Linked DNA regions of Homo sapiens: region 2 is linked to region 1. The links come from fine-mapping of genetic effects on gene expression. A gene starts in region 1. The other region holds a variant in brackets. All regions are shown on one strand. Distances are between the middles of the regions. Region 1 holds the start of KIAA1191. Region 2 overlaps SIMC1 (SUMO interacting motifs containing 1).

Region 1 (13,290 bases):
ATTACTATTGCTATTAGTAATAATTAACAAAACCATAGAAATAAAAAGAGGATTAGAGGTTGCCAGGGAGTGGGTGGGGGGAGTGAGGATACGACTGCTAATGGTACGAGGTTTTCCTTTGGAGGTTATGAAAACGTACTGCAGTTTGGATGGGTGTGGTGGCTCACACCTGTAATCCCAGCACTTTGGGAGGCTGATGTGGGTGGATCACCTGAGGTCAGGCGTTCCGGCCTAGCCAACATGGTGAAATCCCATCTCTACTCAAAATACAAAAATTAGCCAGGCGTGGTGGTACGTGCCTGTAGTCCCAGCTACTTGGGAGACTGAGGCAGGAGAATTGCTTGAACCCAGGAGGCGGAGGTTGCAGAGAGCCAAGATCGTGCCACTGCATTCCAACCTAGGCAACAGAGCGAGATTCCATCTCAAAAAAAAAAAGAAAAGAAAAGAAAATGTGCTGCAATTGATCGTAGTGTTGTTTGCACAACCCTGTGAATATACTAAAAATCACGACATTGTTCACTTTCAGTGGGTGAATTTTATGATATGTGCATTACATCTCAAACACACACACAAGCAAATAATAATTACTAAGTCTTCCTCCTTGCTAGACAATTACATCCCTCATCTTATCTAATCCTCATGAAGCAGATATTCTTCCCATTTTCAAATTTTCCATTTTCACAATCAACTTGCCCAATATCACCTAGCTTGAAAGAGTGTGCTGGGAACTGGAACACAGACCTGAGCCGGTGCACACACTCTGCATGCAACACACTACAAAGCATTCACTGAATGGGCACAATCCTATGGCTCGCGACGGCTACACGGAGTTTGTGGTAATCACAGCAACAATGAAAGACAAACTAAAACGGAGCTGATGATGTTAAGACTAGAGATGGATCTATATTGGGGAATACGGGAGACTTGGGGAGCAATTTCAAAAACATCTTAAAGACTCCCACTGAACAGCCATCCTAAAACAAATAAAGTCAGCTAGTATTTACTGGAAAATATGTTCATATAAAGACAGACCAAATGCATTCTGGGCAGTAAATACATATTTATCACTGATTTTTAACTCCTGTTTTTACATATTTTGTTTAATCTTCACAACCCCGAGAGATAGGAACCATCATCTTTCTTCATCATCATACTTTACCGAGAATCAGAAATTAAGCGATTCAGATGTAATTAAAAATCACTTTCCTTTCTCATAAAACAATTCAAGTAGTCATCAATGGTGTCAATAACCCAGAACTTGACTCATTAAGGGTTGCTGTGAGCATTTTCATGATTAAGTTCAATCTGCCATTTAAGCAGGCTGGTGCCTTTTTACCAAGACTTCCATCCCACCTCCCCATCACCCCCAAAAAGGTGAGTTTAATCACTTTGGTACATACTACAAGAACTGCACAACTTATTCTGAATTATTATTTGATAACTAGGAAAGTAACAAACTTGTCATAATACCCTTAAATGAAGTGACTATTCTCTTTAAGTTAAAGTTTCATACTATGGCTGAGCGGCTAATAAAATATTTAAATGATGCCAATCTAAGGCTAGGCGTGGTGGCTCACACCTGTAATCCCAGCACTTTGGGAGGCCAAGGTGGAAGGATCACCTGAGGTCAGGAGTTTGAGACCAGCCTGGCCAACATGGAGAAACCCTGTCTCTATTAAAAATACAAAAATTAGCCGGGCGTGGTGGCAGGCAGCTGTAATCCCAGCTACTCGAGGCTGAGGCAGGAGAATCACTTGAGCCCAGGAGGCGGAGGTTGCAGTGAGCTGAGATCACACCACTGTATTCTAGCCTGGGCAGCAGAGTGAGACTCAAAAATAAAATAAAACTGGCTGGGCGTGGTGGCTCACACCTGTAATCCCAACACTTTGGGAGGCCGAGGCAGGCAGATCACAAGGTCAGGAGTTCCGCCGGGCACGGTGGCTCACGCCTGTAATCCCATTACCTTGGGAGGCCGAGGCGGGCGGATCACAAGGTCAAGAAATCGAGACCATCCTGGCTAACACGGTGAAACCTCGTCTCTACTAAAAATACAAAAAATTAGCTGGGCATGGTGGTGGGCGCCTGTAGTCCCAGCTACTCGGGAGGCTGAGGCAGGAGAATGGTGTGAACCCGGGAGGCGGAGCTTGCAGTGAGCTGAGATCGCGCCACTGCACTCCAGCCTGGGCGACAGAGCAAGACTCTGTCTCAAAAAAAAAAAAAAAAAAAAAGGTCAGGAGTTCCAGACCAGCCTGGCCAATATGGTGAAACCCCGTCTCTACAAAAAATACAAAAATTAGCTGGGTGTGGTGGCGGGCACCTGTAATCCCAGCTACTGGGGAGGCTGAGGCAGGAGAATGGCTTGAACCCAGGAAGCGGAGGTAGCAGTGAGCCGAGATTGTGCCGCTGCACTCCAGCCTGGGCAACAGAGCAAGACTCCATCTCAAAAAAATAAAATAAAATAAAATAAGCCAATCTAGTAAATCTAAATACTCGCTTGGTAGCAGAGATTAACCATTAATATATAGTTCCGATAAAATGGTTTCTGTCTAGCTTAAAACATTAATAAGGGCAAAACATGATTTTACCAAAAAGAATTAAGTTTACCAGGCACTTCTGGTTGTCTTGAAGCCATTGAAAGACTGGGATCCAGGTGCTTTTTCTATACAGAATTCCGAGCTGAGTCCCTGCCACCTAATAAAATAACAAAGGGCATTTTCTTATGGTGAGCAGCACCAATGCTGTTCTTCTGGCAGGCACACAGAATTGAACGGCTTGTTTACAAGGTTGAAACACACATGCAAGAGCCAGTGGGTGACAAACATGCCAATGAAAAAAGAAGGATAAAGTCAAACGTCTCACCACACCTGTGGCTGATCTTAACACCTGTGAGATGACAGAGCTAAGATGCCATACATGGTGAAAAAGTCACCTTACCACAGTGAAATGATGTGATGACTAAGCGGACAGACAGATGTTAATGAGGAACATGGTCCAGCTGCTGCAAAGTAGCAAAGCTTCCCAGGAAGAGTCCATCCAGAGGTTCTAATAACAACAAACAGCCAGCATTGGAACAGCCCGTCAGAGTCTGCCAAACACTTGTTTATTCCCCACAACAACCTTGCTCATTTCATTTTCTTAACTCACAGCAAGCGGCTAGATACTACAGTAGGGAAATTTGTTCTTTATAGCTAACACTATAAACTATTTACAGCGTTTATCTTGTCTTTTAATCCTTGCAGCAAGATGGCAAAGCAGATATTATTTATCCCAATCCCAATTTTTTTTTTTTTTTTTTTTTGAGACGGAGTCTCACTCTGTCGCCCAGGCTGGAGTGCAGTGGCGCGATCTTGGCTCACTGCAAGCTCCACCTCCCGGGTTCACGCCATTCTCCTGCCTTAGCCTCCCAAGTAGCTGGGACTACAGGCGTCTGCCACCACGCCTGGCTAATTTTTTGTATTTTTAGTAGAGATGGGGTTTCACCGCACTAGCCAGGATGGTCTTGATCTCCTGACCTTGCGATCCGCCCACCTCGGCCTCCCAAAGTGCTAGGATTACAAGCGTGAGCCACCGCGCCCGACCCCAGTTTTTTTTTTAAGCTATCTCTTACAGAAAGGCTATCCCAAATTTAAAGAGAAGGAAACTGGCCGGGTGCGGTGGCTCACGCCTGTAATCCCAGCATTTTGCGAGACCCAGGCGGGCAGATCACTTGAGGTCAGGAGTTCGAGACTAGCCTGGCCAACATGGTGAAACCCCATCTCTACTAAAAATACAAAAATTAGCCGGGCATGGTGGCGGGCGCCTGTAATCCCAGCTACTCGGGAGGCTGAGGCAGGAGAATAGCTTGAACCCGGGAGGCGGAGGTTGCAGTGAGCCGAGATCGAGCCACTGTACTCCAGCCTGGGCGACGGAGTGAGACTCGGTCTCAAAAATAAAAATTAAAAAAATTAAAAAAATGTTAAAAATAATAATAAAGAGAAGGAAACTAAAAATCAGAGGAGTTAAGTAAATTTGTCCACGGTCACAGATAAGTGGTCCGTGCGCAAGGTAGGTAGTTTCATGCCCAGTTTACAGGGGAGTTAAAACGAGGGCCTGAGAAAGTTACTCTTGTTTTTCAGCTTGCTACACCGTCCCTCTATCCCGATAGGACTCAGACAGAGCAAACAAGTTATTGATAGTTCTTCACTAACGAGCATCGCAAAGGCCGAATTCAGCCATCCTCCCAGTCCAGGGAGCATTCCCGCCCCAGACACGTCCCCTTCCCCTTTCCCTTTCCCTGTGCCCCCACCCCCCAGCTCACCGTCCCTCTGCCTCTCCTTCACAATATACAAGACGGTGCCGCCAGGATACGAAAGGCCGGCTGCTTCACCCACCCCTCCAGGCTAAGATTAGGGCCAGGACCCTAGCCGAAGGCGGGGTGTGGGGAGATGAGGTTGAGGACAAGCCGCGGGGGCTCGGGCTGGGCTGGTCCCACGAAGCGGAGGGGAAGCCCGTACGGGAGCTGCAGGGCATTCCCGGAGAGAAGCCCCATTACGGAGACCCCAGAGAGCGGAGCCAGGGAGGCAAGAGGCGACCCAGCCGAGCTCGAAGCCGGGATGAAGGGTTAAGAGGTGCGGGGAGAGGGGAGTGGCTTGGAGGGGCCCCGAGATCGGGCCTCGCCGGAAGCGCCCCTCCTGATCGCCAGAGAACGCAGCCCCAAGGGAGGGCCCAGGCCCGCCATCTGTTCACCTGTGATCCTGCTGCCGCGGGACTGCCTGCGGCCCGGAGTCCGGCACTAAAAAGGTTCCGAGGGCCCACGTCTCCCGAGAGGCTGTGGCGCAGTCTGGACCCAAGCCATTGTGAGAGCGGCGGCGATTTCGAAGGTCCCCAAGACCCACTAGGTAGCAGTACCACCCAGCGGGCAGGCAGCACTGCAGATAAAGCCTCCGGAGACCGCGGGATCTCGCGCGAGACTTGGCCCAGCGGAGCACAGGGCATGCTGGGAGTTGTTGTCCACGATCGCGAGACCCGCCCCCTCCCCATGCCCTTCGCCGCCCAGCGAGTTGTGGAGCCGCAGCTCCGAGTGTGGAATCCGCCAGCCCCGAGAGGAAACGCCACACTTCACCACCACTTCCTCAGCGCGTGTGCTGTGCCTGGGTCCGTGACAAGCTAAGGGAAGACGGAGGTAGCATAGTAAAATGACACCCACAAACCCAAGCCCTCAAGGCTCAAAAAGGGCTGCCAAGTGCGAGCACTTGTCATCCTGTTTTTCCCACTTCACGGAGGTGAAGCTGAGACTGGGAGAGATGAGAAGTCACTTCGATTAGCAAGCGGTGCAGTGAGCACGGACTGTCTCCCAAAACAGCGGGGTTAGGCAGGGTTCGTACTAGTAGCTGAACCAAAAAAGGGAACCGACCTCACCTGCCTCCCCTAGGGAAGGCGATCCTAATATCATTTCTCTTTTACATAAAGGAGAGTGAGGCTTAGAGGCGCCAGCTGAGGTGTCAGTCACATCCTGAAGGAAGACTTCTCTTATCCCTGAAGGGTTCACAAAGAAGGCGAAGCAACGAAGTTACAGCAGAATTTGCAAAAATCTATCCACGTTTCTACCCCAGTCCAAAGCTCGCCATCAAAACTCATCTCAGGAGAGCTATGATTGGTGGTGCAGGGTGAATGTCACATTTAGATTTCAGCATTTGAGGCTTCCAGCCGTACTGGCAGAACTGAGAGGCCTTGCTCATGCGACTTGAAACTTAAGCGCTGTTTCCAGACCAGGGTGCTTGAGTGCACTAAGAATTAAAGTCTTTGATGAATTCTATAATTAGCTTATCAACAGCACAATTACATTGCAGTATAATTGTGTGTATATGTGTGCGTGCGTGTGTGTGTTAAAGGTGTTCCTTTGTTAATTTGGAGCTTTTAAAATATGCCATATTTTTTAACCTCTGTGGAAGCAAAGCTGGCACCTTGCTCTTTATCCACCACAGGAAGGGATGTATATCACCTCTCAGTCAGAAAAGGAAGAAATAGCACTTTGCACCCTTATGTAGATCATAAGGTGGGATCATCTCATTTATTTCTTAGCCACAAATACATGAAAACTTAAGACTTTCCTGGAAGTTACTATTTGATTAAAACAACTTTTTCTGGCTGGGCACGGTGGTTCAGGCCTGTAATCCCAACACTTTCAGAGGCTGAGGCGTTCGAGACCATCCTGGCCAACACGGCGAAACCCCGTCTCTACTAAAATACAAAAATCAGCCAGGCGTAGTGACAGGTGCCTGTAATCCCAGCTATTCTGGAGACTGAGGCAGGAGAATCTCTTGAACCTGGGAGACGGAGGCTGCAGTCTGCCTTGTCCTAGGTACCCCCAGTGACTGCCAAGGCTTCCACGTGTGTAGCACGAGGAGGAAGAACAGGAGAAACGACCTGAGTACAGCAGTCGGGTTCTTTTGGCTCTCCAGAGGGGTGACGCCATGTACGGCTGGCTGTAGGGTACATGGGTTGAGAGACCGCCTGTGGCTCTCAGGGCCCAGCAGGGCTACCTCTTTCCCTTTATATTGTCTCAACTCTTCACCTCCTTTTAGTTCGCGATTCCTCTGTACCCCTGGCTCTGGGTCCCAGCCCCTATTCCTTCTGATTTGTCCCCCTTTCCCTTTGACTACATATATATGCTCCTCTCCTCCCAGATAGTGATGTTTTAGCTACATCTTATTTCTTCCGGCATTGATTCTTTTGAAAAATTTATTTCTGGCTGGGTGTGGTGGCTCATGCCTGTAATCCCAGCACTTTGGGAGGCCTGAGATCACACTACTGCACTCCAGCCTGGGCTACAGAGTGAGACTCCATCTCAAAAAAAAAAAAAACTTTATCCCTGATATTTGTGGTACCAATGTCTGAAGCTGTCATGGTCTTGGTGCATAGCACCTATGTGAGAGCACCTATTTCTTTTCCACAAATAATAGACTGTAAACATTTTTTTTTTTTTTTTTTTTGAGACAAGGTCTCGCTCTGTTGCCCAGGCTGGAATGCAGTGGCGCAATCTCGGCTCACAGTAACCTCTGCCTCCCAGTTTCAAGCGATTCTCCTGCCTCAGTCTACCAAGTAGCTGGGACTACAGGCGCCTGCCACCACGCCCGGCTCCACGCCCGGCTAATTTTTTGGATTTTCAGTAGAGATGGGGTTTCACCGTGTTAGCCAGGATGGTCTCGATCTCCTGACCTCGTGATCCGGCCGGCTGCCTCGGCCTCCCAAAGTGCTGGGATCACAGGCGTGAGCCACCGCACCAGCCAAACTTTTAATCTTAGCAATTTTGTGGGTTTTCCCCTCTAAGTGGGTGTATTTTTGAGGAGGAGCTAATTTTTTTTTCTTTTTTTTTTTTTTTGAGACGGATTCTTGCTCTGTCACCCAGGCTGGAGGGCAGTGGCGCAATCTCAGCACACTGCAACCTCCTCCTCCTGGGTTCAAGCGATTCTCCTGCCTTAGCCTCCTGAGTAGGTGGGATTACAGGCACGTGCCACCACGCCCGGCTAATTTTTGTAGAGATGGGGTTTCACCATGTTAGGCAGGCTATTCTCGAACTCCTGACCTCAGGTGATCCGCCTGCCTCGGCCTCCCAAAGTGCTGGGATTACAGGCATGAGCCACCACACCCGGCCAGAAATAAATTTTTCAAAAGAATCAATGCCGGAAGAAATAAGATGTAGCTAAAACATCACTATCTGGGAGGAGAGGAGCATATATATGTAGTCAAAGGGAAAGGGGGACAAATCAGAAGGAATAGGGGCTGGGACCCAGAGCCAGGGGTACAGAGGAATCGCAAACTAAAAGGAGGTGAAGAGTTGAGACAATATAAAGGGGAAGAGGTAGCCCTGCTGGGCCCTGAGAGCCACAGGCGGTCTCTCGACCCATGTACCCTACAGCCAGCCGTACATGGCGTCACCCCTCTGGAGAGCCAAAAGAACCCGACTGCTGTACTCAGGTCGTTTCTCCTGTTCTTCCTCCTCGTGCTACACACGTGGAAGCCTTGGCAGTCACTGGGGGTACCTAGGACAAGGCAGTCAGCCCTAAACATTCTGAAGTCCTGACACTGCTTAATTCAGCCTGACCAGGACCCCAGCAAAACCCCTGTGGTCCGGGAGGCAGCGAAAGAAGGCTAGAGGTGGCGGGGAGCCACGGACCTGGGTTCTATTCCTGCCTCTGCCACCCCACTGCCGTGTGATATCGGGCGTCTTGCTTCAATTTCCTCCCGAGGTCTTGAGGGATGACCGGGAGACAGATCGCTTGGGTTTGAACGCAGGCTACACCAAAGCACTACGATGCGGCGTTGGGCGGGTTACTTAACTCCTGGGCCTCGGTTTTCCCTTCTGCGTGGTATCATTGTAAGGGGTAACGGAGAAAAGCCGTGAGCTAACCCCTGGTGGATGCTAGCAAGCACCGCCGTCTCCCGTCCTCCCCAGGCACAGCCTCTCCTTCCTCCACCCTGCACCTGGCAGGGGGACCGGAGGTCCCCGCGCGCCGGCCAGCGCCCCACCACCCACGCCGCCGGGTCCCGGGCGGCCTGCCGTGACAGCGGCAGTGCATTGTGGGGCTTGTAGTGCGGGACTGGGTCTGGGTGGGTGGGCGCGGCCGCAGCAGTCGCAGCGGGGCCATCTTCGGCGGGCGAGTGGGCTCGGCCTGTGCAACCCGCACCTGCGTCCCTCGCCCGGCCCGATGGCGCCGCGGCCGCTGGGCCCCTTGGTGCTGGCGCTGGGCGGCGCCGCGGCGGTGCTGGGCTCGGTGCTCTTCATCCTCTGGAAGACCTACTTCGGCCGCGGCCGAGAGCGGCGCTGGGACCGGGGAGAGGCCTGGTGGGGCGCGGAGGCTGCCCGCCTCCCCGAGTGGGACGAGTGGGACGTGAGTGCCGGGCCGAGGCCTGCGGAAGGGCGGGCAGGCTGGGCTGCGACTCCGCGCATGTGGCCAAGGGGTGTGACCACGGAACGGCCCTGCTGGTGCCGGGAGCTTGGGGGGTCGAGGGCTTGGCAGCCGCAGCGCACAGGCCCCGCGCGGGTGGGCGGTCAGAGCCCGGGAACCGAGGAACGGGTGGGTGTGCTTGGGTGCGTGCGGCGCCTTGGCGCCACGCCGTCGCTCCACGCCATGAGGCTCGGGTGTTCCAGCGGGGGCCGGAGTTTGGAGGGCGCGGCTCGGGAGCATCCCGGGGCCCAGCCGGGTCGGCTCGCGCCCCTCCGGCGCCTGCGCAGTGCACCCCGCCCGGGGGTGGGGATGTCGGGAGAAACCCCATCCCCTCCCGCCTGCGGTCGGGACTCCGAGACCGGTGGAGGAAGCGGGGCGCGCGAGCGTTTAAGGAATTCGCCAAGGGTTTGGAATTCAGGACTGCAAAGGCGGCGTTCGTCCCACTCATCCAGACCATGCCTGCCTGTCCCAGGACGGGTGGAAGGCGGGCCTGGGCCCTCTGGTGCCTTCGGTCTTCCCTCGGGAAAGGTCCTTCGGGAGGCCGCCAGCCGCAACCTTACCTCCGCTTCCCCGCAGCCCGAGGACGAGGAGGACGAGGAGCCGGCGCTGGAGGAGCTGGAACAGCGCGAGGTGCTGGTGCTGGGGCTGGATGGCGCAGGCAAGAGCACGTTCCTGCGCGTGTTGTCGGGGAAGCCACCGCTGGAAGGCCACATCCCCACCTGGGGCTTCAACTCCGTGCGTCTGCCCACCAAGGACTTTGAGGTGGACCTGCTAGAAAGTGAGCGGACACCCTACCCCATCTCCCCGTCTCCTCTACTGGACCAGTCCTGGATTCTCTGCAGGGAAGGGGGCTTCCAAAATGCATGTCTAAGCAGCACATTCCCCTCTACGAATCCTTCCCACCGCTCTCCGGGGCACAGGATTCAGCCCACGCTCTGTGCTCTGACATTTAGGGCCCTTCGTGATCGGGCCTCTCCAGCTGCACCGCCTGCCCCATCACCCCTACCAAAGTCGATAGGCCTAACACAGAGATACTAACAGCTAAGGGTTCATATGCCAAGCACTTGACGGGCATTGCTTAAGAAAACTCCCCTAAACAATTACATAAAACTAGAATCGGTCACTACCCTCGTTATCTCCAGAGGAAAATGAGTTCCAGCAGTAGTATCATGAATCCAAGGTCACCCACCTTTCTAGTCTTTTTTTTTTTTTTTTTTTTTTTGAGATGGAGTCTCACTGTGACACCCAGGCTGGAGTGCAATGGCGCTGTCTCGGCTCACTGCAACCTCCTCCTCCCGGGTTCAAGCGATTCTCCAGCTTCAGCCTCCTGAGCAGCTGGGATTACAGGCGCCCGCCACCACGCCCGGCTAATTTTTGTATTTTTAGTAGAGACGGGGGTTTCACCACATTGGTCAGGCTAGTCTTGAACTCCTGACCTCAAGTGATCTGCCCGCTTCGACCTCCCAAAGTGCTGGGATTACAGGCGTAAGCCATCGCACCCCACCATTCTAGTTTTTTTTTTTTGGAGACAGGGTCTCTGTCGCCCAGGCTGGAATGGCAGTGGGCAGTGGCACACCCTCCTCCACTATTGCCTGTCTGGCCCAAACTAGTGTCATCTTTCCTCTCAGCACCACAGCCTCCTCTTTGGTCTTCCTGCTTCCCCTTCTGTCCCTAGTGTCAGCTAGAGAAAACCCATGTCAGGTAATGTCACTCTTGCTTAAAGCCCTTGGGGGGCTCCCCACCCCCTCACTGTGGTCTTTGGCCCCATGTGGCCCGCCCCAGCCAGCCTCACAGCCATCTCTTTCTCCTTCTTGCAGTGCCTCAGCACCCCAGCCTTCTTTCTGTTTCCCAGACACTTCCAGCATGCTCTCCCCTCTGTCTGGAATGCTTTCCTCTGCCTCTTCCCATGGCTGGCTCCTTCTCATCATCCCACTCAGCTCACATGCCACTTCCTTGATGAGACCTACCCAGACCACCCAATCCAGGGCCAACCCCTGTTCCACCTCAGCCACTTTCCCTTTTTTCTGTTTTATTTCTTTCCTTTTTGAAATGTGTTGATGTCATTGCCATGTCCTTCCCAGTTAGGGAGGGAGCTCCTTGGTGCAGGGCCCCTGCTTGCCTTGCTCACCTCTGTATCTGCAGCACCCAGATCAGTGCTTGGCACCTAGCAAGCACTCAGTAAATATTTGTTGAGTGCCTGCTATGTGCCAGGCATTGTGCTGAGGGCTTTGTGGGGATTCAGAGGTAAGTGCCTCTGACTCTCACAGCTTAGAATCCTCAAGTGTCAGAAACATAGCCAGAAACACTAGGGTGCGGGGTGACCAATGGGACTGTGCAGAGGAGCAGAGAGGAAAAGAAAGGTGATCCAGGCTGGGGGACTGTGTTGGCAACCATGTGTTCATAGGATGAAATATGACATTTCCAAGGGAAAAGAAGGGGATGGGGGAAACTGAATGGAGAATGGCTGTGTATAGGCAGGGCAGGGGGTCCTGAGTTTTCTAGACAATAGGACTCCTGGCTCCTGTCACAGCCATCACTGACAGTTTTGAACCTGTAGGAGAAAGCTAGGAATTAGCAAGAGGCAAAGCCAGACAACCCAGGGGAGAGAACTGAAGACTTCCATTTACTGAGCACCTGTGTGTCAGTCCCGTGAAAGGTACATCGCACGTGGTACCTGTGGGTTTTACTGCAACAACCCGTTAGGAAAGTTCAGTGAGGAGACTGGTGCTTAAAGCTAGGGACTTGCCCCAAGAGACCCGCCTATCAGAGCTAGAGCTAAATCCAGTCTGAGTAGCTGCGGAAACTGCGGTCTTTTCCTTGCCCCCGGCTGGTGGAAGCTCACTAAGCTAGAAGCAGGGTGGGGTGGGGGCTGTGGGCAGTGAGCGGGGGCCCGGGGTGGGGTGGGGGCTGTGGGCAGTGAGCGGGGGCCCGGGGTGGGGTGGGGGCTGTGGGCAGTGAGCGGGGGCCCGGGAGGCTCTGAGCTGGCCCCTGGCCTCTCCTCAGTTGGGGGCAGCCAGAACCTGCGCTTCTACTGGAAGGAGTTTGTGAGCGAGGTGGATGTGCTGGTGTTTGTGGTGGACTCGGCTGACCGACTGCGGCTGCCCTGGGCCCGACAGGAGCTGCACAAGCTGCTGGACAAGGACCCTGACCTGCCTGTCGTCGTGGTGGCCAACAAGCAGGTGAGGGCTGTGAGAGGGCAGCTCGGTCCAGGTGACATCCACTCAGAGATGCTTGGGCAGGGGCAAGGAGCGCTGCCTGGGCCCATGGCCTGGAGAGGGTGGCTGAGATGCTGCCCCCACCTCTTCTACCTATGCCCTGTCCTGATCCCTGCCTCTGTCTTCCTTCCTCTTTGCCTCCCTATCATCTCGTACTCTGGAGAGATGAGAAAAATAATTATTAAGTGCCTCCTATATGCCAGGCATGGTGTTTTGTTTTTGTTTTTTTTTTGAGACAGAGTCTTGTTCTGTCGCCCAGGCTGGAATGCAGTGGTGTGATCTCGGCTCACTGCAACCTCCACCTCCCGGGTTCAAGCAATTCTTGTGCCTCAGCCTTCCGAGTAGCTGGGATTACAGGTATGTGCCACCACACCCAGCCAATTTTTGTATTTTTAGTAGAGGTGGAGTTTTGCCATGTTGGCCAGGCTGGTCTTGAACTCCTGACCTCAAGTGATCCGCCCGCCTCAGCTTCCCAAAGTGCTGGAATTATAGGCATGAGTCACTGTGTCTGGCCCCCAGGTGTGGTTTTGAATAACATTTCTTCTTATGCTTCTGTTGACCCTATAAAGTATGGGATGCTATTCCCATTTTATAGATGGGACAGGCTAGTCTTATAATCTTTCCAAGGTTGTACATCTTGAGAGTAATAGAATTGGTCCAGGCGTGGTGGCTCAAACCTCTACCTCCAACACTTTGAGAGGCCAAGGAAGGTGGATCATTTGATTCCAGGAGTTCGAGACCAGCCTGGGCAACATGGTGAAACTCCGTCTCTACAAAAAAAATGCAAAAAATTAACTGGGTGTGGTGGTGCCTGCCTATAGTGCCAGCTACTTTAGAGGCTGAGGCAGAAAGATCACTTGAACCCAGGAGGTCGAGGCTGCAGTGAGCTGTGATCACACTACTGCACTCCAGCCTGGGTGACACAGCGAGACCCTATCTCAAAAAAAAAAAAAAAAATAGTGGAATTGGGACGTGTAATGCTAAAGCTGTACCTTTTCCACTCTGCTATGCCCTTGCAAATTCTGGCTCTAGATCAGAGAGCTGAAGCTGGTAACTGATGAGAGGTAGAACAGGTTAAATAACAGCTAACATTTATTGTGTGCTTACGGTGTGCCATACATGTGGTAAGCACCTGACAATCATGACCT
Region 2 (15,991 bases), 25 kb before region 1:
GTGATTCCAGTGCTGATAGGAAGAAAGAGACGGGACCCCCTTTCTTACAGTAAAAAGCCAACTAATGTTAGAAAAAATGATGAATTAGGCAGAAATACTGTTTGGCAACCATCATAATATTCAGACGTGAATGGATACTAACATGGTGAAAGATTGTGGAGTAACAAGATATTTGCATGGTCTCTAAGTATGTTCCCACAAGATACTTATTTATTACAAAGGGAAAAATAGCAACTTTACAATGGAGACACTACCATAGTCAAGTGATCAAAGTTCACACCAACAATGGGACAAATTGATGTCATGTGCCTTTTTATACAAGGCATTGAGAACAACAAAACACCATTTTTTCAGTACTGCCAAAAATGTATAACCTTCATCCATTCATGGGAAAAGTTCAGCCTAATGTCAAATGAGAGATGTTCCTTGAAAAAAACTGGCATGTGCTTTTCAAAAATGTCAGTATCCACTTTGGGAGGCCAAGGCGGGTGGATCACGAGGTCAGGAGATCAATACCATCCTGGCTAACACAGTGAAACCCCGTCTCTACTAAAAATACAGAAAATTAGCCAGGCATGGTGGCAGGCCCCTGTAGTCCCAGCTACTCGGGAGGCTGAGGCAGGAGAATGGCGTGAACCCAGGAGGCGGAGCTTGCAGTGAGCCGCGATCGCGCCACTGCACTCCAGCCTGGGCGACAGAGCGAGACTCTGTCTAAAAAAAAAAAAAAAAAGTCAGTATCATGAAAGACAAAGCAATGTAAAGCAATTCTCCTGCCTCAGCCTTCTGAGTAGCTGGGATTACAGGTGCCCCCACCATGCCCTGCTAATTTTTATATTTTTAGTAGGGAAAGGGTTTCACCATGTTGGCCAGGCTGGTCTCGAACTCCTGTCCTCAAGTGATCCACCCACCTTGGCCTCCCAAAGTGCTGGGATTGCAGGCATGAGCCACTGCACCCAGCCCTATGTCTGCAACTTACTCTCAGATAATTCAAAGAAAAACAGACAGACAGATGGATAAAGAAGATGTGGTAGGCCAGATGCAGTTGGCTCATGCCTGTGATCCTAGCACTTTGGGAGGCCAAGGTGGGCGAATCAGCTGAGGTCAGGAGTTCAAGACCAGCTTGGCCAGCATGGTGAAACTCCATCTCTACTAAAAATACAAAAATTAGCCAGGTGTGGTGGCGGGCGCCTGTAATCTCAGCTACTCAGGAGGCTGAGGCAGGAGAATCGCTTGAACCCAGGAGGCCGAGGCTGCAGTGAGCCAAGATTGTGCCACTGCACTCCAGCCTGGGCAACAGAGCAAGACTGTCTAAAAAAAAAAACAAACAAACACAAACTTTGCATTATTCTTGCAATTCAGTATGTCTGAAATTGTCAATACAAAAAGATAAGAAAAAAGGTTATGTTTATTGTAAACAGTATATAGTTGGCATTTGTTGTTTTAGCCAGCTGAAAATTCCTGCTCTTTAATATAAGTATTGGTTTTATACCTGTAATCTGACTATTTGTTTCCTGTTTGTTCTTTCTTCCTCTTCTGGCTTTTGGATTGATTGAAGATTTTCTATTATTCCATTTTATCTCTCCTGTTGGCTTTTAGTTCTCTTTTTTAAATTAAAATCTTTTTGTTTGTTTTTGTTTGTTTGCTTGTTTTTTGAGACAGAGTTTTGCTTTTGTTGCCTAGACTGGAGTGCAATGGCACGATCTCAGCTCACCACAACCTCCGCCTCCCGGGTTCAAGAGATTCTCCTGCCTCAGCCTCCCAAGTAGCTGGGATTACAGGCATGCGCCACCAGACCCGGCTAACTTTGCATTTTTAGTAGAGACGGGGTTTCTCCGTGTTGGTCAGGCTAGTCTCGAACTCCCGACCTCAGGTTATCCACCCGCCTCAGCCTCCCACAGTGCTGGGATTACAGACATGAGCCACCGTGCCTGGCCTTAGTTTATTTTTAGATTAAAATCTTATTTTGACATAATTGTAAATTCACATGCAATTTTAAGGAATGTTAAATATTAAATAGTATTAGATAAATATTGTATTCAATATTACATATTATTGGATAAAAATAAATATAAACTTTATTCAATATTAAAATTATTAAAGAGTTCAGAGACAACCCAGATAATCTTTTTCCAATTTCCCCCAATGGTAATATATTACAAAACTATAGTACAGTATCACAACCAGGATATTGTGATTGACATAAGCCAAGATATAGAACATTTCCATCACTTCAAGGATTGCTCTTCTTGCCTTTTTATAGCCACACCCACTTCCCTCCCATCCCAACCCCTTTCTTAACCCCTTTCAACCATTAATCTGTTTTCCATTTTTTATATTTGTGTCATTTCAAGAATGTGATATAAATGGCCTAGGCACAATGGCTCACGCCTATAATCCCAGCACTTTGGGAGGCCAAGGTGGGCAGATCACTTGATGTCAGGAGTTCAAGACCAGCCTGGCCAACACGGTGAAACCCCGTCTCTACTAAAAATACAAAAATTAGCTGGGCGTGGTGGTGCGCACCTGTCATCTCAGCTACTTGGGAGGGTGAGACAGGAGAATCACTTGAACACAGGAGGCAGAGGTTGCAGTGAGCCAAGATTGCACCACTGCACTCCAGCCTGGGCGACAGAGCAAGAGTCCATCTCAAACATAAAAAGAAAAAGAAAATGATATAAATGGAATCATTTGGTATATAACCTTTTGGGACTGGCTTTTTTTCACTCAGCATAATTCCCTGGTGATTCATCCAGGTTGTGGGGTTTTTTTGGTGTTTTGTTGTGTTTTGTTTGAGATAGGGTCTCACTCTGTCGCCCAGACTGGAGTCCAGTGGTGCAATCTAAGCTCACCGCAACCTCTGCCTCCCAAGGCTCAAGTGATTCTCCTGTCTCACCCTCCCAAGTAGCTGAGATGACAGGTGCGCACCACCACGCCCAGCTAATTTTTGTATTTTTAGTAGAGACGGGGTTTCACCGTGTTGGCCAGGCTGGTCTTGAACTCCTGACCTCAGTTGATTCCCCCACCTGGGCCTCCCAGAGTGCTGGGATTACAGGTGTGAGCCACTGTACCTGGCCTAAATACAGATTTTTAATATTTTTTTTTTTGCCCCAACCTCTCTTATCTTCTGGGAATCTAAGTGTACATATAGATCTGTTCCACAGATCACTGAGGCTCTGTTTTTTTCTATTGCTGTTTAGTTTCATTTATTTTGTTTTCTCTCTTTCTCTCTCAATAGTCTTTAAAATCCATTTTTTTAATTCCCCCAGTGCCCAATCTGCTGTTAAGTCTATTATTGGTTTTTTTTTTTTGGAACTAGAGTTAACATTTGGTTCCTTTTTATTCTTTTTGCTGCAAGTCTTCATCTAGTCACTCATTATGTACATCTTAATTTACTTGCTTGCTTTTGAAAATCTTGAACATATTTATAATAGTTGTCTAAAAGCCCCTCACAACTAATTCCAACATGTATGTCACCTCTTGGTCTGTTTCTATGGACATTTGCTCCTGGTTATGAATTACATCTTCCTGCTTTTTTTACTTGTCTGGTAATTTTTATTGTGTTCTGGACATTGTGGGCACTACATTGTTGAGAGTCTGGATTTTGCTCTCTTTCTTTAAAGAGTATTGACTTTTATTCTGGCAGGCAGTTAATTTGCTGGCAGATTAGCTTTTTCCTGTTGAGGCTTGTTTCTAGGATTTGTGAGGTTGGTTCCACAGCAGCCCTTATTAAGGAGCTACATTCTTGAGGCTTAATCTTTCTGGGGTCTCAACTGAATGTCCAGGATATTCAGTGAGATCTCTCCACACTGACTCCTTGAAACACCAGTATCTTTCAGCACTCTGAGATCTCCAGAATTCCCAGCCAGCTTGCAACCCCCCAGTAGCTGTTCTCCACCAGGCTTTTGGGGCTTCCCCTACACATGTGCCAACAGGTTCCCTTACACACATTTCCTGAGCACCCTATTCTCTGACACAAATTCTAGACACCTCAGCTGTCCTAAACTCCAGCCTCTGTTTTGTCTGCCCAAGAAGCCCCCTCTCTTCTATTTTAGACCCACACCTTCCTCTGCCTTCATTAGAAAGTGCCCCCAGCAAGAAATCTGGAGTACATGAAGTTTACCACCTTTGTTTCTCTTCTCTCAAGAATCACAGTCCTGCAGGGCACAGTGGCTCATGCCTATAATCCTAGCATTTTGGGAGGCAGTTGGGGTGGATCACCTGAGGTCAGGAGTTCGAGACCAGCCTGGCCAACATGGTGAAACATGTCTCTACTAAAAATACAAAAATTAGCTGGGCATGGTGGTGGGTGCCTATAATCCCAGCGGCTCAGGAGGCTGAGGTAGGAGAATTGCTTGAACCCGGGGGGTGGGGGTGGAGGTTGCAGTGAGCTGAGATCAGGCCACTTCACTCCAGCCTGGGCAAAAGAGCGAAACTCTGTCTCAAAAAAAAAAAAATAATAATAATAATCATCACAGTCCTTTGTAGTAAGTTCTCTAATGCCTGAAAATGGTTGTTTTCTATATTTCCTCTGGTTTTATCATTGATTATGACAGAAAGGAAAGTCCAACATCAGTTACTGTGTTGAGGCTGGATCTAGATGTTGGCCTTTCTTTGTATCTTTTTTTTTTTTTTTTTTTTTTAGATTGAGTCTCGCTGTGTTGCCCAGGCTGGATTGCAGTGGTGCAGTCTTGGCTCACTGCAACCTCGGCCTCCCAGGTTCAAGCGATTCTCCTGCCTCAGCCTCCCAAGTAGCTGGGACTACAGGTGCACACCACCACGCCTGGCTAATTTTTTGTGTTTTAGTAGAGACAGGGTATCACCGTTTTTGCCCAGACTGGTCTCGAACTCCTGAGCTCAGGCAGTCCACCCGCCTCGGCCTCCCAAAGTGCTAGGATTACAGGCATGAGCCACCACGCCCGGCCTTGTTTTTAAATTTTTAATTTGAATTGCTCTAGGTAATTCTACGTACAGTTCCTACTGTGTTCCATATATTGAAATTATGTCCTTGTCCTTTGTAGATCTCTGAGTTTACCATCTGCAGATTATAAAGCAAGCCCTGGCACAAAAATTAGAAGAGAAAATAGTTTCAAATAAAAAAATACTATGGCCAGACACAGTGGCTCACGCCTGTAATCCCAACACTTTGGGAGGCCAGGGTGGGAAGATTGCTTGAGCCCAGGAGTTTGAGGCCAGCCCTGACAACATAGTGAGACCGCATCTCTACAAAAAAAATAATAATTAGCCAGGGACAGTGGCACACTCCTGTAGTTCCAGCTACTTGGGAGGCTGAGGTCAGAGGATCACTTTGAGCCCAAGAGATTGAAGCTGCAGTGTGTGATGATCACACCACTGCACTCCAGCCTGGATGACAGAGTGAGACCTGTCAGAAAGGCAGGGGTGGGGTGAGGGATGAAGGGAGAGGGAGGGAGGCAGGGAGGGGGAGAGAGAGAGAGAGAGAGAGATTAGAAAGCAAGAGAAAGAAAGAGAGAAATACCTCCTGCGTTGAGCCTTTTTTGCCCCTCGTAGACCACTCTCACCAGTGCTTCTGCCTCCATAGGAAGGCCACTTCCAGTCCCCAAATGTGCTCTCTTCTGTGTATCTCTGGAGCACCACTAGCACTTTGCATACAAGTACACTTGCCCTGCACTTTTTAAAGTTCCTTTTGCATACCCCTTGCCCCTGTTCAACTATCAGCTTTTTGAGAGTGGTTCCTTTTATTTATCTTAATATTCCTTGTTGTGCCAAATAGTATTTGGCACATCATTGGCATTCAGAAATATTCTCATGATTAATTTTCATAGTGACAATGTGTAGTAATTATTTTTAATGTGTCCTAAACTTGTCTTTGTCAAATGTGAAAGACTTTTTCCTCATTCTAGCAGTTGCTAATCCAACAAACCCATTTCTACCCTGTCCACAGGTTTTGTGATTCTGTGGGCTTCCATGGTATTCCTTCTTAACTGTCTTTTTTAGGACAAATGTTGTACATTCAGGGTGAATTGTGGCTCATGTTCTTTGAAGCATAGTTGTGATGATTAACTCCCTCTTCCTCTTCTCCACACAGAGAAATGTTCTTTACTACCATGGAAAGCCACCTTCTGCGCTGCAAAGTGTTAGAAATCATATTCCTCCACAGCTGTGAGACACCCACCCGCCTGCCTCTGTCTCTGGCCCAGGCCCTCTACTTTCTGAATAATTCTACGTCACTGCTCAAGTGTCAGGTACATTTTTTCCTGCCCAATTTCAGGCCTAGAGCACCTCTCTTTGCTCTAGGCCCGAACCCTTCCCATAGGATTTTAGCTTAAAACACAACTGTTTGAGCATTCTGTAAAGGTGAATTGAAAACTGTACAAAAATTTTAACTGGGGAAGGCATTTATTATCAATCCATTTTACTATCTCTGCAGTCAGATAAAAGCCAGTGGCAGACTTGGGACGAATTGGTTGAGCATCTGCAGTTTCTGCTGTCCAGTTATCAACATGTTTTAAGAGGTAAGGAGCATTTGTTCACAAGTGGAGTAGTGGAAGGTCTCAATGGACATTTGTATTAGTCATAACTACACAGGATATTCTGATTTGTTGACATTGTTCCTTGGTTGTATGTAACTTATTATAAGGGATAAGAAATGACATAGCCGGAGTCACCACTGTGAAAAGAATTCACATATTCTTGTTATGGCCGACAATACATGGTCCTCATAGTTGTAAGATTGTGTAGGTAAGCAGAAGTCATCAGAACCTCCAGCCTGGCCAACATGGTGAAACCCTGTCTCTACTAAAAATACAAAAATTAGCCAGGCGTGGTGGTGTATGCCTGTACTCCCAGCTACTCAGGAGGTTGAAGCAGGAGAATCATTTGAACCCAGGAGGCAGAGGTTGCAGTGAGCCAAGATCATGCCACTGCATTCCAGCCTGGGCAACAGAGTGAGACCCTGTCTCAAGGGGGG[C/T]GGAAAAAAAGAGAAGTCATCAGAACCTGAGAAGGACTCAGGAATGCCTGAAGACCCCTGGCATCCTCCCTTGGCCTGTCACTGCAGCATCTTTGCTCACTGACTGTGGACATTGTAAACATTGTAAACATCCGTCAATACAATGTAAGTACAGAGCAAATCAGGAGCAAGGTGAACATGTACATCTTGCAGAAGATGTAAGGTACTCTAAGTCTATGAAAGTGGCTCTTCAGAGCTGCTTGGGTCACAGGTGAAGCCAGTGACCAATGACGATGTAGGAGAGTTAGACCAGGTAACCCTCAGAAGGTAAATGTTGACCAGGATAATGATGGAATAGCTGCTTCAAATGAGAATGATTTTATTAGCCAAGGATTAATGAGGCCTGTGGGGAAACTGAAGAACTGATGAATTATTAATTACTAGAGGAAAAATAGTAACTTGCTAGGGGAGAAACCTGGCATTCTTCCTGGATGTGATTGACGGAGAAGGATGCATCATCATGTATGTAATGTTCTTGCCAAAAGTTCATGACCTGGATCCAATGGCCAGGACACTTCAGACAAAACCAGATTGAGTGACCTTTTATAAAATAACTGACCTGTACTTTTTTAAAGTGCCAGTGTTTTAAAAACAAAGACAGACTGAGATACTCTTCCACATTTAAAAGAAACTAAAGCACATAAATACTACATACAAGGCATGACCCTAGGCTGGATCCTGAACAGGAGAAAAGAAGTCATAAATGGGGAGACGAGAGTTTTCCAGAAAGAAAGAACAGCATGTCCTAGAGCCTTGAGGCTCTAGGACACACTAAGTTGCTTAGTGTGAGTCCAAGGAACATAGAACAAACTAGCAGGGCAAGGCTGTAGTACATTGTTCGGACAATTGGTAAAACTTTAGTAGATTAGATAACATTATTGTGTCCATATTAAATTCCCTATTTTTGATAATCATACTGGATTATGATAGTAAATGTCCTTGGCCTTAGGAAATCCATACTGAAGTATTGAGGGGTAGAGGGGTATAGTGTCTGCAACTTATTCCCAAATAGTGAGGGAAAAAAGTATACAAGTGAAATACACCTGCCCATGATCATATTTATGTTTATTTTAACTCAGTAATGGCACTTGGGAAAGTAAGATAGCTCTCAGACCCTCTCAGGCCAGGAATTGAGAAAGCTGTTGTAGAGACTTTAAAAAAAAAAAAAAAGTACTGGATTTAAGACAGAAAGTCTGAGTTTAAATCCGAACTTCACCATTTACTCAGTGTTGGGCAGCTAACTGTGTCTCTAGGCCTCGGTTTCTTCCTTCTATAGAATGGGGATGATAGTATGTAACTTGCAAGGATTATTAATGAGTGAAAAAAGTAATGTGTTTAATGTTCATTGAATCTGTCTTCCTGCGTCCCTGGGCAGAGGTAGGCTAAGGGTCTTCTCTGTGTTTCAGACTGTTGTAACTCACACTTAAAAGAGTACATTGTCGGCCAGGCATGGTGGCTCACGCCTGTAATCCCAGCACTTTGGGAGGCCGAGGCGGGCGAATCACAAGGTCAGGAGTTCGAGGCCAGCCTGACCAACATGGTGAAACCCCGTCTCTACTAAAAATACAAAAAAATTAGCTGGGTATAGTGGCGGGGTCTTGTAATCCCAGCTACTCAGGAGGCTGAGGCAGGAGAATCATTTGAACCCGGGAGGTGGAGGTTGCAGTGAGCCAAGATCGTACCACTACACTCCAGCCCTGGCGACAGAGTGAGACTCTGTCTCAAAAAAAATAAAAGAGTATGTTGTCCAGTCCATGCATGATATGTGGTTGTGCAGTTTGTGCATTTGTAGCACCCTCAAAGAAAGGTGCATGTCCTTCTCCAAACAAAGACCCGAAGGCAAGTTCCATGTGTTCTTACCCTCAGTGAGGCTTATGTAATTGTTTTGGAGATTACCAGAAAGGTTAATATTAACAGCTTGTTTTAAAGTTCACCTTTAACATTTCTTGTTCCTTTCTATTTTGATTCCCGGGGAATACACCTATCATGGGCAATAATGACTTAAGGTGGAAACGGAATCTACTTTTATTACAGAATATTTTTTATGTTTTGATAAGAGAGAGAAAGGCCTCAAACCAGTATATATTGACCAAGAATAAATGGGGTGTGTTGCAGTGCTGTTTTATCCTTAAATGTTTGTTCCAGCTTCTTTGGGGTCCAAGAGTTAGGAAGGAGGAAAATTAGCACTAGTAGTTTGAAAACATTGTCCTGCAAAGAACACAGCCGAATGGTACCCAGCAATAGTCAGCGTCCTTGTCAGTCAGTAAGCATCTTACTGTGAGGGCCCTTCGTCTCATCTCTGCCTTCTGCGAGTGGTCTGTGGATGTTGTTGAGGGCATTTTGAGATCAGTCTGAGTTGTCTAGCTCCACTAGTTGTCTAGCTGCAAGAGTGGGAGAAGAAGGGAAGGGATTAGAGAGCCCAAGCTTTCCTTTTGTTTAGGGGAACTCTCAGCATGGAGGAAGAAAGGAAAAGAGATTAGGTAAATTCACCTGCACTGGTTTATATAATCCAAAAACCTTGTGAAGGTATCACCCCCTGTTATAGATGGGAAAACAAAGGCTGAGAGAAAAGCAAATGCAGAGCTAGGATTCAAACAGGTCTGTCAGAGACACGGATTCTGGGCTGTCAATTGAGCTCATGTTCTTGTTCTTTGGCCGAGAGAATCAATCCCCCCCACCCCAGTTGCATAGCCATGTGGCTCAAGTTTCAGCCTCAGCAAAATTACAAAGTGCTGCCTGTCATGGAGTTTATGAGTATGAATTCTAGGGATTTGAACATATAATATTTCAATGAACAAATGCATGCTTTTCCTGAATCCTGCTTATCTGGCCAGCATAGCTTGCAGAAGTCAGTCACAGTCATTCTGAGGCCAGTCACACACACGGTCTCCCTGCAAGGAGCCCTGTCCACGGACGGGGAAAAGCAGAAGCAGGTAGGATCAGTTCAATTCATATATTTATCCAGGCAACAGATATCTACTGAATGTCCTCTCTGTCCTCTGTGCTCACTGGGAAAACCTTAATGAATAAGACCAGCATGGCATCTGCCCTCACAGAGCTTACTGTTTAGTGGAGAGATTGATCCTAAATGAATAATGATACAAGTAACCTATAGTTACATAGAGTAAATGCTATGAAGGAAGTACAAGTGCACAAAATCTATTTTTGGAGGGATCCAGGAAGGCCTCCCTGAAGAAGTGATACCTCATCTAAGACATTAAGTAGGCGGGGCGCAAGGGCTCACCCCTGTAATCCTAACACTTTGGGATGCTGAGGTGGATGGATCACCTGAGGTCAGGAGTTCAAGACCAGCCTGGCCAACATGGCAGATCCCCATCTCTACTAAAAATACAAAAATTAGCCAGGCGTGGTGGTGGGTGCCTGTAATCCCAGCTGCTTGGGAGGCTGAGGCAGGAGAATTGGTTGAACCCGGGAGGCAGAGGTTGCAGTGAGCTGAGATCGTGCCACTGCACTCCAGCCTGGGCAGCAGAGCAAGACTCCATCTCAAAAAGAAATAAATAAAAGACATGAAGTAATGGTGTTAGCCAGGCAAATGGGGAGACAAGAGTTTTCCAGAAAGAAGGCACTGAATGTCCAAGGGCCTTGAGGCAAAAAGATGCTTAGTGAGTCCAAGGAACATAGAACAAGCTAGCAGGGCAAGGATGTAGTGAGTAAGGGGAGAATAACACTAAATGAGACTAGAATAGTCCATGGAGGAGGTTGTGAAGGGCCATCTTGGCCATGCTAAGGAAATTCAGCTGGTTCTAATAACAGAGTGAAGCCATCAAAGTGGTTGGTTCCAAGTAAGGGAGTGTCATGATCAGATCTGCAAATTTAAAGGCTGCTCTACCTGATGTGTAGCGAATCATTTGGCAGAGGGCCAGAGGGGCCAGGGGAGGGGTAATGGTGACAAGGGTGTGGCAAGGACAGAAGGACAGTGGAGAAGGCAGTGGATGGGACAGAAGCACTTTGAAGATAACTTTGACAGGGCTCTTAAGTGACTGAGTCTGAAGGGTGACTCCCAGGGTTCTGCCATTACTGATATGGAGAAAGATCTGCAAAGAAGATGAAGAGCTCAGGTTTGACATATTAGGTAGGAGATTCCTATAGTGATGATGATGATGATGATGATGATGATGAAATAATAATTAACTCTTGTATTGATCCAAAACTACTAACAATACTATCAGCTGAAATATCTTGAGCCAGGCATTATGGCTCAAACCCTTTTCAATGCTAAATGTCCTCATACAGTAATCAGCAACCTCTGACATAACAACTCTTATCCCTACCGAAGCATAAAATCCAAGGCCTTGTTGACTAGACCAGCAGGGCTGAAGTCCACTGGCCAGGGTTTCCTCCCCCATAGACAGTGCTGAGATGGGCACTGCTAACATTTGCTTCTTTAACTTTCCTGCATGATTTAATAAACTCCACATTCTTCTTGCTTGCCCTCTAAGTTTCCCCTGTCCCACCCTATTCAGTCAACTTTTTTTCCACTTCTTTCAAAATCATTTTTGTATTTTTCAGAGTGGCACATGCCTTAAGAAAATCAAAGTCTACAAAAAGGCTCTTCCTAAGACAATTCCTAACTAGTCTCAAATAAAACAGCTCATATTTCCCTATTTACAACCCTCTAAGTCTATAGATACCCTGTTTGCTCTCAAAGGCCAAACTCCACATTATAATGTGGCCTACCCTACCTTCCAATCTCATCTAGTACTTGTCTCCCTTTTATTACTCTGATTTTTTTAAGTTTCTCGATTTATAAAGTCATTACCTTATGTTAGCTGAAACACTTTAAGTATCAAATGTAATTTTCATTGCCTTCCATGGATGCCATTAACGTGGTATATGCATCCCCAGTGCTTCCACCCAGTTCCAGAGGCTGGGAAGTCCAAGGTCGAGGGGCTGCACCCGGGAAGGACTTCTTGCTGCGTCTTACCACGGCAGAAGGCTTCCTACCCTGATTTTCTGTCTTGTTCTCTAAGCATGCTTTTCCTCAGGACATTTGCTATTGCTGTTCTCCATGGACTGCTTTTCCCTTTGACCTTTGCATGGTTGCCTCCTCATCCGTCAATACTCAGCTCACAGACCCTCCGTGGCTAGAGTGGGCTGCTTCCCTTATTCCCCTCAGTGTTACTGTTTATCACAGCATCTGATTTATTTATTTGATTGCATTTGCCACAAACTATAATCAATATTGTTGACTAACTTATCATCAGGCTTCCTGCAACTAGAATATCAGTCCACAAGGACTGGGCCCAAGGCTCTAAATTCCACTGTGTCCCCAGACTCTAGCCAGTTCCTGATATGCAGTAGGTGCTCAGTAAATGTGTGCTGTTTGAAGGTTGAAAGGGCCTTGCACTTCCATCTCAAGGCAGCTTTGTTTCCTGTGTTTCCAGACTTTTTGAACATGCTGTTGTATACTTACTGTACTTCTTCACAGATTACAGACTTTAGTTTTGAGAGATTTTGCTTTTCCATCATTTTATCTGAAGGTTGAGAAAAAACATATTGAATGTATTACTTGAAAATGTAACCTGATAAACCGCTTAAAATGTAACCTGATATACCACTTAAAATGATTTGTTCTGTGTCCTAAATCTGGATACAGTGTAGCTCAGTCCTTTTAATAACTGTTAGTGAAAGTGCCATCATCCCCGTTTGATAAATGAGGAGACTGAGAAATGATGGTGTACTTATGTGCAACTGGAAGTCTTCAAGTCCCCAGAACTCTCTCAATACATTTGCCTAATGTGACCTTCTGCTCATTTGCCTCAATTCCACACACTTCTAGAATCTATTGGGGCTGGCCTGTAGATTTGGGATGAGATACCTTTATAACTTTTTGTTTTCCTATTTTCATTTTTAGACCTACGGAAAAGTAGAAAGAATAGTATAACGAATGCCCATATATATACCGTTTACGCTGATTCATTAGCTTCTAAGATTTTGACACATTTGGTTTACCTATTGATCCATGTATATACCATTTTTTCTGAAACAGTTGATAAGTGCGCCATCATAATTGTATTGCTTAAGTACTTCAGCATGTTCAGCATGTATCTCCTAAGCGTAAGGATATTGTACTTCATACCACTGTGCATTATCACACTCACGAAACTTTTCTTTTTTTGTTTTTTTGTTTTGTTTTGTTTTGTTTTTTTTGAGACGGAGTCTAGCTCTGTCGTCCAGGCTGGAGTGCAGTGGTGTGATCTTGGCTCACTACAACCTCCACCTCCCGGGTTCAAGCAATTCTCCCACCCTCAGGCTTCCGAGTAGCTGGGATTACAGGCATGCACCACCATGCCCAGCTAATTTTTTTGTATTTTTAGTAGAGACAGGGTTTCACCATGTTGGCCAGGCTGGTCTCAAACTCCTGACCTCAGGTGATCTGCCCATCTCCGCCTCCCAAAGCACTGGTATGACAGGCATGAGCCACCACAGCCTGCCATGAAACTTGTTCTTGATAGAATATTATCTAATAGTGTCCCAGTAATATACTTTTTAGGTAGTTGATTTTAGATTGAGCCAGGATACGGTCAAATATGAAGCACTGTACTTGGCAGTCATACTCTTTGGTCTCCTTTAGTCCAGCACAGTTCCCAGCTTTTACTTGTCTTTCATAATAGACATTTTTTAAGAGTCCAGGCCAGTTATTTTGTACATGTCCTATGATTGGGATGTTTAATTGCTTACTCGTGATCACACTCATGTTAAATACTGTTGACAAGAACATGGAGTAGGCCAGGCACGGTGGCTCACACCTGTAATCCCAGCACTTTGGGAGGCCGAGGCTTGCGGATCACTTGAGGTCAGGAGTATACACACACACACACACACACACACACACACACACACACCTGAGACTGGGTAATTTATAAAGAAAAGTTTAGTTGGCTCACAGTTCTACAGGCTGTACAGGAGGCATAGTGGCCTTTGCTTCCAGTGAGGCCTCAGGAAACACAATCGTGGCTCAAGGGGAAGCAGACACGTTTTACGTGGCCACAGCAGAATAAAGAGTGAGGAGGTGCTACGTAAACACTTTAAACCACCAGACCTCATGATAACTCACCATCACTAGAACAGCACCAAGGGGATGGTGCTCAACCATTCATGAGAAATCACCCCCACCAGGCCCCACCTCCAACATCAGGGATTACAATTTGGGACTGTCTAGTTGTTTATTCATGATCATACTCATGTTAAATACTATTGGCTAAAACATGGACTAGATGAATATGTCTAATTGTTTCCTCAGTATTTTCATTTTTTGACCATGTTATGTGATCATAAAAAATGACACAGATCCAAACCATATCACTTTTTTTAATGTAAAACTTCTTAAGGACCCGAGAGAACTGAGAACAAAGGGCCTTTTGGAAGTGGAGTTACTGCAGGCACTCACACAGCCTTCGACTTGTATCCCTGTAGCTAGTCAGCAAGTCTTTGCCAAGACTCTACCTACCAAAATTAGACTTCTTAAAAAGAATTAAAAAGCAGTTCAGAGCACCCAACTGACTTTTTTCCCTCTTGCAGAACACTTAAGGAGTTCCGTGATCGACCGAAAGGACTTAATAATCAAAAGGATTAAGCCCAAACCCCAGCAAGGAGATGACATCACAGTGGTAGACGTAGAGAAGCAGATTGAGGCCTTCCGCAGCCGCCTGATCCAGATGCTGGGGGAGCCTCTTGTCCCCCAACTCCAAGACAAAGTGCACTTGTTGAAGCTCCTGCTCTTCTATGCTGCGGACTTGAACCCTGATGCAGAGCCCTTTCAAAAGGGCTGGAGCGGCTCCTGAGGGCCTGCCAAGCACTGAATGCCAAGAATACCTCCTGAACTCTCTCTCCAACTGCTCAGAAGCTCTAAAAGCATGAAAAGTGGTTAAAATCTTACAGGACCAAACCTGCATTATTTAATCAGTAGGTTGTAATTTCTAACTCTAGTAAATATCTTTTTTTAAATAATCCTATCCTAGCCTGTTCTCAAATATGGCTTAAATATACAAGGTATATATATTTTTTAATAAATTATTTATCTATACTTTTTTGAAACAGGTTAATACTCTGTGCATCACATGTTTAACATTTTCATTCAAGATGTGGAAAAAATCCCTCTGCTGAACCTAGTCTATACACCAATATTATGTCATTCAAGGTACCGACAACCTGTTTCAGGAGAGAGACGTTCATTTTTCCCTAATGAAATGCAAGCATTCTGTTAGACCTATTATATTGCCTGTTAATTTGACTGTAATGAATAGGGGGTAGAAACAAAAGGATCAAGTGTGTTATAAAACATTTGATGTTAAAAGGAGACAATAAAAAGGCAATGGTTTTTCAAAATACCAAGTTCAGTGTGACTCTGGGTGGGTAGAGTGGAATAACTATTGTTAAAAGGACAAAAAAATAGCCACATTTGAGAAAGTAGTAAGGATTTTTATTGTCAAAACGAGATCATAATAGAAGACACAAATAAATTAATTGTTCTCATAATTTTAGACTCCAGGGCCTCTCTATGGAAAGGCCAGCTTCTTATACAGACAAGGTACTATCCAAAACAAAAAGCAGGTATTTGAGACAGTGTTCAAGACAACAAGTGAACTTGTACACAGTGAAGAGAAATAAAAAGGTGGCTTCTGTATTTCCCTCCCTCAGTAAGGTTATGTGTTGCATAAAGGGATGAGGCTCATTTTGGTGAAAAATGCTTTCATACAGAAAATTTTGAATTGAGTGACCTCCCCGCACAGGCGTTCCAGGCCCTGACCTGAACAAGGAAATCAAAGTAAGTTAACACCACTGGCTTCACATGAACCTCAAGACTATAATCTAACGGTATCTACCATCTCCTTTACTTTAAAAAAGTTTAATGTCCATTTACCTATACCAAATCAGTAGACTTAATTTTCTCTCTTAGGAAGTTTTTAACCAAATTACAGCTAAATTAATCTCACTTTAAAGTGCAAGAAAGGCTCTGCTAGAGTAGTGTTTGTTCTGTGGCAT

What was found. PIP is the estimated chance that this variant, and not a neighbour inherited with it, causes the effect. A credible set is the group of variants that fine-mapping cannot tell apart.
Region 2: its variant is the best candidate, but not a certain one, in a credible set for the expression of KIAA1191 in whole blood (INTERVAL, PIP 0.55).

What each region holds. Positions count from the first base shown.
Region 1 is chr5:176,356,877-176,370,166 of GRCh38, forward strand. It overlaps KIAA1191, which reads right to left and starts at 4,888. Exons shown (of 9, transcript NM_020444.5): 1 at 4,726-4,888; 2 at 2,935-3,042; 3 at 2,605-2,691. The coding sequence starts at 2,632. ARL10 (ARF like GTPase 10) reads left to right here and starts at 8,611. Exons shown (of 4, transcript NM_173664.6): 1 at 8,611-8,870; 2 at 9,504-9,705; 3 at 11,931-12,106. The coding sequence starts at 8,688. MIR1271 (microRNA 1271) reads left to right here and starts at 11,070; the gene lies at 11,070-11,155. RefSeq lists enhancers at 4,644-4,963, 8,076-8,325 and a silencer at 8,476-8,865.
Region 2 is chr5:176,330,656-176,346,646 of GRCh38, forward strand. SIMC1 (SUMO interacting motifs containing 1) reads left to right here. Exons shown (of 10, transcript NM_001308195.2): 8 at 6,065-6,221; 9 at 6,407-6,491; 10 at 14,528-15,334. The coding sequence ends at 14,790. KIAA1191 reads right to left here. Exons shown (of 9, transcript NM_020444.5): 9 at 15,407-15,991. Among named protein-coding and RNA genes, the nearest start is that of KIAA1191, 23 kb to the right of the region's middle. The variant C/T (reference allele first, on the strand shown) is at 6,947.